3 linked regions of the Homo sapiens genome follow. The protein of the gene in region 1 purifies or fractionates together with the protein of each later gene. This does not show direct contact. Each region holds a gene or a part of one and is shown in the gene's direction. Other genes may lie near its edges.

Region 1 (3,500 bases):
AAACCAAGGTAGGCAGATTGCCTGAGCTCAGGAGTTCAAAACCACCCTGGGCAACGTGGTGAAACCCTGTCTCTACTAAAATCCAAAAAAATTACCTGGCCATGGTGGCGCACACCTGTCTGTAGTCCCAGCTACTCGGGAAGCTGAGGTGGGAGAATCGCTTGAGCCCAGGAGGCGGAGGTTGCAGTGAGCCAAGATTGTGCCACTGCACTCCAGCTTGGGCAACAGAGTGAGACTCCATCTCAAAAAAAAATATATATATATATATATATGTGTGTGTGTGTGTATATATGTATATGTGTATATGTATATATGTATACACACACACATCTATCTATCTAATTTTTAAGTTGAAAATGAAACTTCAGTTCTAGGAAAGGTATACGGACTCTTCACTTTTCACTCTTCACAGTTCTGTATTACATTCATTTATTTTGTATGGTAAAAATTAGCACTTCAGTTTTTGCCACTTTTATCCCATTCACTTGATGATTTGCGCCAGCATTCTAGCTTACCATCCAGTACCAAGAAAGGAAATGTGCAGGGTATTTTTGAAAAATTGCCTTATTCTGCACCCATCTCTAGAGGCAACGGAAACTTTAAATTCTTTTCATTGTCACAGAGAGTTACCTGGAGAAAAAACAGTCTGCTCAGACCACTTAAATTATCCCTCATCGTTGCTTCTCTGTCTCCAAATACCGAAATTCTAAGAAAGCAAGCAAAATTATTGTTAATGAAACATAGTGTTTATTCTTTATAATATAGGATTGTTCTGGATGTATTCATTAAAGTGGACATTTTGTGTAATATATATCCTATAAGATTGTGAGGTAATTCTGTTTTGAATGTAGAGAATTACTGTGTCATCTCTACTCCTGTTTTATATTGTTAATCATTAGTCCCTTGATCAAGAGTTCAGAGTACAATTTTGTGGGAAACTGTAACCCTGTAGGACCTCTTTTTATTTCATGAATTCCAGACATAGGAACACTGTGGCCAAAATAACCCAAAAATGCACGAAAGATTCAGCCACTTCAAACTGGCTCCCAGGCTATTTTGATTTTATTTGTTTGTTTTTAATGTGTTCTGGATATTATCCCTTTAACCTAAATATATATGTTTAACCTTGGCACATACAGGCCCACTTAACTTAGTATCTGTTTCTTCTTGGAAATATCCTAATTTTCAATTAAATATATTCTTGATGTAATTTCTCTTTTAAGATTTGAGAAACGAATTTATATTCCCTTGCCGGAACCCCATGCCCGAGCAGCAATGTTTAAACTGCACCTAGGGACCACTCAGAACAGTCTCACGGAAGCAGACTTTCGGGAACTTGGGAGGAAAACAGATGGTTATTCAGGGGCAGATATAAGTATCATTGTACGTGATGCCCTTATGCAGCCTGTTAGGAAAGTACAGTCAGCTACTCATTTTAAAAAGGTAAGTCATTTTTATCTATCCTTTCCTATCTTTTTTTTTTTTTTTTGAGACAGTCTCACTCTGTTGCCCAGGCTGGAGTGCAGTGGCACTATCTGGGCTTGCTGCAACCTCCGCCTCCCGGGTTCAAGCAATTCTCATGCCTTAGCCTCCTGAGTAGCTGGAATTACAGGCGTGTGCCACCACGCCTGGCTAATTTTTTGTATTTTTAGTAGAGACAGGATTTCACCATGTTGGCCAGGCTGGTCTCGAACTCCTGACTCCAGGTGATCCACCCACCTCGGCCTCCCAAAGGCGTGAGCCACTGCGCCTGGCCCTTTTCCTGTATTTTTAAAATCAAGTTTCAAGACCGTCATTGGTTTGTCTTCAAAGAATTTGGGAGGATTTCAGTGTTGTATAATAATACCATAAGTGGGTTTACATAATAGACATATTTCTGTGTCACTGAAACAAGTTCTTTAATAAAGTTTATTTATTGGCCATTTTTGGCTGGGTGCAGTGCCCCATACCTGTAATCCCAGCACTTTAGGAGGCCGAGGTGGGCAGATCTCTTGAGCTCAGGAGAGACCAGCCTCAGGCAACATGGCAAAACCCCATCTCTGTAAAAAATACAAAAATTAGCTGGATGTGGTGGCACACTCCTGTAGTCCCAGCTACTTGGGAGGCTGAAGTGGGAGAATCTCTTGAGCCCAGGAGGTGGAGGTTGCAGTGAGCCGAGATTGCACCAGTGTACTCCAGCCTGGGTGACACAGTGAGACCCTGTCTTAAAAAAAGAAAAGGCCTTATTAATCATCCTAATGTGTTTTAAATTTTCCTATGAAATGATTTTTGAAGTATTTGTGTATTATTTTGATATAAGTATAGAAACTTAAATGTACAGATGTAAGGCTGCTTCTGACACATCTAGAATATTTTTGAGTAGAATCTGGTGCATTTATACCTCATAAAGTAAAAATAATAATAGCTAATATCTTTTAAATATTCACATGCCTGGCACTGTGTTCTGTCTTTTATCTTACTATTTCATTTGGTCTTCACAAAAATCAGCAAGAGAGGTACATGTAGCCAGCCACCTAATGGTGGTTAGTCTTGGACGTAGGTGCTAACACAGTAGCTAGAGTGGGACAGACATGTGATTTGCCTGGAGGTGAGGTGTGTTTCCAAATCTGAAATCTCAGCCATTCTGCTATCCTGCCCCTCCTGTGTTCTGTTTTGTCTGCAAGAACAAGTTAAGCATCTGTGGCTGAGATAAAGTTTTATAAGAAGGCTGTGGTCTTGAGATACCCAGTTTGAGTAACAATGAACTAGGTAATCTGGACCAACCCTTTTGCTGTGAACAACAGTATCCAGTATTACTCATGAACATACATGTGAAAAACTATTAGCAAACCTAATCTCATAATGTATGTCAAGACTAATATGACTAAGTCACATACGTATATTTATCATGTACCATAATAAGATTTTTTTAAGTTAACAAGCTTGAATTAAAATCTGAATTTGAAGCCTGGCACCATTTACTTGTTATACCTTTTTGAGCAAATTCTATTACTTCTTTAAAGCTCATTTTTATCATTTCTAAAATGGGGATGTGATAATGCTATTTTGAAGTCCTTTCCAATAATGAAGTGATATAATACTCATAAAACACCAGTCGTGGTACTTCAGATGCGTAGGGAATGTTACTCATCCACCCTTCTTCAGCCATTTCATTACTGAAGTACTGTTAAGTTTATGCCACAGCCATTATGTTTTTTCTTAAATTCTCTTTGCCATTTAGAAACTATAAATGCATAGGAACTCAGTCCTTTCCTACTGAGAGTTTGTCACTCAATTCTGCATATTACTGCCAGGGTGAGCTCACATGACGCTGAAGCCAGGTCCTTGTTAGTGGGATGAAGGTGACACAGCCAGATGAGTTTTATCTCTGCAGCTGGGGATCACCAGCTGCAGCAGACCTCTCAGCGGCTCCATCCTTTACTTCTTTTAAAGCTGATTATTTCAGTTAACAAGAAGAAGATTCCCTGTTTATTTTTTGCATTTACTAGTATTTTATTTCT
Region 2 (3,504 bases), on another chromosome or scaffold:
TTTAGAGTATACATATTTGCTGCTTTTCCTTTAGTGTTCACAAAAATCCCAAGGTCAGTTTAGTGTGGCTGAGTTGTTGTTATCTGGACCCTAAACAATCATTACCACCTGTAGACAGTTCTTACCTACCCCTCTCCTCCACAATCCTAGTCCATTTGGAGGCAACTATCCTGTGGCCTCCAAGTGAATAAATCTTTCTTACACTTACTTACGTGATATTTTCTATCATAATTATCTCTCTCATTTCTTCCAATAGTAATAGCGGTAATATTGTTCCATTGAATATCTATGCACCTAGCTCATCTCTTAGAAACATCCCACATAGTAGCATCGTATTACTCTCTGGTAAAAAGAAAGATTAAATTAAAAGGACTCTACACAGTGCTGAATTTCCTGCACCTAAATTATTCAGTTATCACTTGCCAGTATTAGTTGATCCTTCAGGCTATGCCAAGTGCCCCCTCATGTAGGCCTCTGTATTAAAAAGATTGGGACAAAATACTTGATTAGTTTGCCTGTAGAAGCTCAAAGTGTGTACCAAATACATTGACAGTGGATGCTTTCATGGCTCAGCCAACACAGTTCAGAGGAATCTTTTCGGCTTCCAGGGCATTGCTTGTTACCTTTTGTCAGGATCAACCCAAATCCTCAGGGATGCTGTTTTTCCACACTGTAAGTCCTAACTCATTAGTGGGTCATGAAATCAACTTAACAGCTCAAGACCAGTATATTTTAAACGTGAAATAATAAAAAATAGAGGAACAATAGAGCATATAAAATGGTTAAGTATTGGTTCCTGAAATACTGTTTCAGCTAAATATTCTATTTACTGTGTATACTGGGTCACAATATAAAGTGTTTCCTGTTATGAAATGCAATTTAAAAAAAGAAAGCTTGAAAGACTGCTGCAGGAGGCACCGGCCATCCAGTGATTGTTGGAAGAGTCTGGATTGTGTGGAGCCTGACCTTAGATAAGGAGCAGCAGATCCACAACTCAGGAAGTCTAGAGATGCTTAGCACTTCTTCTTTTGAGTGAGAAGATGGAATCACTCTTGGTTTCTAAAATATTTTTCTTCTCTGCTGTGTATCGGGCAACCTCACATGATTCAGTGGGACCAGAAAAAGCATAGAAAAATTAGATCCACACACAGCACCCAAAAAAGGCCATAGTCTTTTGTTTACCTAGATGTATTTTAACCTCTTTACCACTAAGCATTTTACTATAATAGAACTGGGGACATACATTGTCCTTTTGAGTCCGTTGAATCTGCACCATCTACCTTTTGGCTGATTCACCATACAGGTGGCAAAGGCCTTTAAAAATGGGGAGCTAATACGTAGGGCACATTCTGGTAGGGCCAAAATATTCAGTGTCTGGGGGGTGCTATGCAAATATCAATGACTTTTTACTAAAAACAGTGGATTTCCTCATTTCTTTAAGATCCAAGTAGAAAATGTAAATAACTTACATTCTGTATGCAGGACTCAATACAGACTTAGTCAATCTGATTTTTTTTGGTGCTTTTCAGTATAGCGCAACTCTAAAAGGAAACCCATTCACCCTCCTTAGTCCTTTGAAGTATACTTTTGAAATTATACCTTATTGTTAATGGCAACCTAATCAAGCTAGGATTTGTCGGTTAAAATTTTGATTCTTGTAATCTGTACTGTCAATTTTTGGCCACTCTGGCTGTTACAGCAAACTTTTCTCCCACTGTCATAATTGGTCTAAAGTAGTATTTGTTTCAGGACTATCCAAAAAGCAAGGCCAGCACATTGAGAAGATGCAGAATCCTACTCTATTACAAACCTCACTCATGTTTCTTTTATTGAAACCTTTTTCTACTTTATATTTCCTCTTTTGTAAATTTTTCCATGTCATTTAAAAAATTTTTTACTTTAGAATTACAGATTAGTTCTTTTTTTAAAGCATTATGGCATTTTCAAAAAAAAAATTATTTTGGTTACCCAAAAAGCTATACAAGAAATATAACTTCAATTTTTTAGGTTGATATGGGTATATTTTTAAAGTTTTTATTACTTTATACAAATACAAATTAATTTATATTATAGTTTAACACCTGCTATGATGATAGATATCACACTGCTATGATAGAAAATCCCTGTCTGTCATTGAACTATTCATTTAGTGTTACTCTGATATGTTAATAATGTATTCCTTCTAATGAAGTCCTTGTAACAAGAAACCCTGTGAGATTGGTATAATGAGATATCAAATAATCAGAAGTATAATTAAAATAGAACATGTTGGAAAATCCCAACATTTCCTGTTATGCCGTCATACCTCCGGTGTTCAGTTTGTTACTCAAAAGTTCCCAGTTCTTAGGCTGAAAAACATTCAAGTAAAAATGTAGCATAGATTACACTGAAATATTTTCAGTATCAATGATTTAATATCCACACAAACTATTAGGAATGGTATCTGGAACTTGTTACAAGGTCAGATAAACTGTTACAGAATTTTAGAAATAATTATCTCTGTATGTGACTGTGTATTACATATAAAAATGAATTTTTCAGGAAAAGTGCACTTTAAAAATACTTTCTCTTGCTAGTTTTTTAAATTGATGAAATAGCCTGTGCTGCTTTGGAATGCTTATTCTTTCTTTGATGAAAATACGGTCATTGATTATGATAATTTTAAAAATATCTATTTCTGCATCGCTGCAGGATTTCCTACACTTTTCTGTTCCTCATCCCTCTTTTATGTGTGCTTGGCTCAGTTGCCTGTTACACAGCCTCTGCCTTGGTTTTGTGTATTCTAAGATAATTTATAAACACAGATATTTACAGTGAAGTTCTTCCTTTTGAAACTAATCTTATTCTTTTATTCCTCTCTCTAAAAATTGGTTGGCCATGCTCACTAATGATTTTTTTTCTTAACAATAAGCATTTCTTGGTATTGGTAGATTTGGATTGCATGGTAAGATGACTGCCCATTTTCACCATGTATACCTTTGTCAAATAAAGATTTCTGATCTTTGGTCTGCTTCTGTTTTTAGTTTTTTGATAGAACTAGAAACATTATTAATACCCTTCCCTTGCCTATATAAATTCCACCCTCTTTGGGGCTGAAACAAATGTGAATAACAGATTGCCCAAGGTCCTGATTTTTCAGTCAAAGCAGGCGACATTCCAGCCCAGCATGATCATTGCTGACTAAAAGCTTGGGGTGGTATAGTACCTAGTAAATTCTCTTTTTTTTTTTTTTTTTGAGACAGACAGTATTGCTCTGTCACCAGGCTGCAGTGCAGTGGCACGATCTCGGCTCACTGCAACGTTCACCTCCCAGGTTCAAGTGATCTTCCTGCCTCAGCCTCCCGAGTCGCTGGGACTACAGGTGTGTGCCACCACGCCCAGCTAATTTTTGTATTTTTTTTTTTTTAGTAGAGATGGGGTTTCACCATGTTGGCCAGGATTGTCTCGACCTAGTGAATTCTTAACCACCGACATTCTGTCTCTTAACCTTAGAAAACTCCGCAT
Region 3 (2,729 bases), on another chromosome or scaffold:
AAATTGATAACTCATATGAAAACCAACCCCACCATATGTTCACTGTCTACTTGTGTCCATCTTCGTCCCACGCACCCCACAAGGACCTTCCCCGCCATGTGCCTCAAACATCAGTTCCTGACTCAGGGCCTTTGTATTTGCAGTGCCCGTTGCAAAGAGCACAATTCTTTATTTTATCTGTGGCTTGTCCGTCATGTCTTTTTTTCCATGACACCTCCACACAGGCCTTCCCTGCCTGCCTGGTTTAAAATTCCAGCCCCTTACCCTTCCTCCTTTATTCTTCTCCCTAGCAATTTCCACCATGCTGCCTGGTGTATTTTCCTCATTTCTCTGTGGCTTCTACACTAGAAAATATTTCCCTTTTGTTCACCACTATGAGTCTAGACCCATGACTGCCATACAGCAGGCATTCCATAAATGCACCTGTGGAGAGTTGACCCATGCTTGTTGCGTGACTTCTGTCTGATTTTTTTCTGTGTTGCAGCATAAGAAGCGCTAATAGGGAGAACCAACTTGGCTAAAACACACCAGGCTTTTTCACCTCTAGTCTGTACCTGGGCTGTATCCCTTCTCAACCCTAAAGCTAAAAAGTCATTGTGAACCTTTTGGTCTGATGCTAAAGAAGGGAAAACAGGTACAGGAAATCCCATGTGGATGCTTGCTTCCAGGATTTCCTGCCATGATTCCAGAATCCCACAGCTCCAACATGATTGCAAAAGACTCCCTGCTCATTTTTCCTCAGCATGCACAGCGCTGTCCTGTCTCAGTTGCAACTCGACAGAGCCGCATTTACTCCAGAACCCAATCCACACACCTGCTCATCCTGCCCCGAGAGGAGTGCCTGAAGCCAATAGCAGGGAACTAGAGCAGACTTGGGTGGATCTTCATTGGATATTAGGTATCTTGCCCTAGATAGGCAGCAGTGGCCTTACAGATGCTGACAGATGATCTGATTAGATGCACAGTTGCTGGGTGGCGTCTGGGGCCAGTCTATTGGCAGTTCTGGGAGTGGGAACTATTTGGGCTCTGCAAAGATGGTTTCACCTTTAAGAAGGGCAGTATGGGGAGGTGAAGATGGGGCCCAAAGGATAGAACATAGTCAAAGAAGCAGGGCCACAATGCCCCTTTAATTCCCAAGCCCTAGTTGGGCAGTGCTTGGTGACACATCCCATTACCTCACCTTAGATCAATGTCTACTGAGCCATCATTAGCTCTGCTTCCTCACTTCTTCACAGTATCTGATGGCCCATCACATGCTGCTCAACATCTTAGACCAATGTCTGCTCACCCATTACCTCCCTTCACCTCATCCAGCACTGTATCTGAAGCTTCACTATTCTTCCTTCAGTTTTGGATATTTTGTGATACAACATTATCCCCAACTTAGGACAATGTCAGCTGACTCTCAGGAGGGTGCCTGGAGATCACCTCTTCCTTCCTAACATACCCTAGAACAAGGTCTGGTCCCCTTCATTATTCCCATTTTACCTTACTCCTAAGTGTATCACTCCTCATGAATTCCAGGAAATATGGAGGAAAACACATTTCACTGTACATGACTTTCAATAATTTCTCCTTTATATTTATTGTAACGTGATATTTTAGTGCTGACATATATATGTATATGTATGCCCATTTATATAAAAGACTAGTTTTTAGAGAAATTTTAGGTTCACAGCAAAATGGGGCAGAAGGTACAGAGATTTCCCATATATCCCCTACCCTCACATATACACAGCCTCCCCCATCATCAACATCCCCCTTCAGAGTGGTACATTTGTTACAATTGATGAAACTACATTGACACTATCGGCCAAAGTCCATGGTTTAATTAGGGTTCAGTCTTGATGTGCATTCTGTGGGTTGAGACAAATGAATAATGACATGTATGCATTATTACAGAAGGATAAAGAGCCGTTTCACTGTCCCAATAATCCTCTGTGTTTCGCCTACTCCTCTAAACTCCTGGCTATTTTCTTTTGTCTCCATAATTTTGCCTCTGAACCATAAAGTATGCAGCCTTTTCAGATTGATTTGTTTCACTTAGTAATGTGGATTTAAGTTTCTTCCATGTCTTTTCGTAGCTTGCTAGCTCTTTTTTTTTTTTTTTTCTCATTGAATAATATGCTATTGTCTGGAAGTACCATGACTTATTTATCCATTCACCTACTGAAGGACACCTTAATTGCTTCCAAGTTTTGTTGATTATGAATAAAGATGCTATAAACACCTGTGTGCAGGTTTTTGTGTGAACATGACTGTAATATTTTAAGGTCGTATTTATTGAGGTATAATTTACATACAGTAATATTCACCCTTTTTAGTGTGGAATTCTCAAAGTTTTGACAATTACATCATGCAGTCAATACCACAGTCAAGACAGAGAACAGTTCCCTCACTTCCCTACATTTCCTCCTATTACTTTTTAGTCCATCCCTTTGCCCACCCCCAGGCCTTGATGATCACAAGCCCATTTTCTGTCTGTATAATTTTGCCTTTTCCACATGTTGTATAAATGGAGACATCCTGTGTGTGTCTCTGTCTGTTTATATATGTGTATGTATCTCTCTTTTTGAGTCGGACTTGTTTCATTTAATGTGATGTATTTGCGATCTATCCATATTGTTATATGAGATAAAAATGGAAAATAAGGTGATGAAAAGATGCTCGACATCTTTAATTTTCAAGAAAATGAAAATGAAAACCACAATGAGATACCTGTACACACC

The links. Proteins that work in one complex are often made in the same cells at the same time.
Region 2: the proteins of VPS4B (region 1) and VPS13A fractionate together in Homo sapiens (co-fractionation; one large-scale study listed by BioGRID). This does not show direct contact.
Region 3: the proteins of VPS4B (region 1) and ZNF585B fractionate together in Homo sapiens (co-fractionation; one large-scale study listed by BioGRID). This does not show direct contact.

The regions. Positions count from the first base shown.
Region 1 is NC_000018.10:63,394,977-63,398,476, reverse strand, and holds part of VPS4B (vacuolar protein sorting-associated protein 4B), read left to right. Parts: intron 1-1,223; coding exon 1,224-1,443; intron 1,444-3,500.
Region 2 is NC_000009.12:77,418,534-77,422,037, forward strand, and holds the end of VPS13A (intermembrane lipid transfer protein VPS13A), read left to right. Parts: 3' UTR 1-3,004; downstream 3,005-3,504. UniProt on the Homo sapiens protein: Mediates the transfer of lipids between membranes at organelle contact sites. Binds phospholipids. Required for the formation or stabilization of ER-mitochondria contact sites which enable transfer of lipids between the ER and mitochondria.
Region 3 is NC_000019.10:37,181,079-37,183,807, reverse strand, and holds the end of ZNF585B (zinc finger protein 585B), read left to right. Parts: 3' UTR 1-2,229; downstream 2,230-2,729.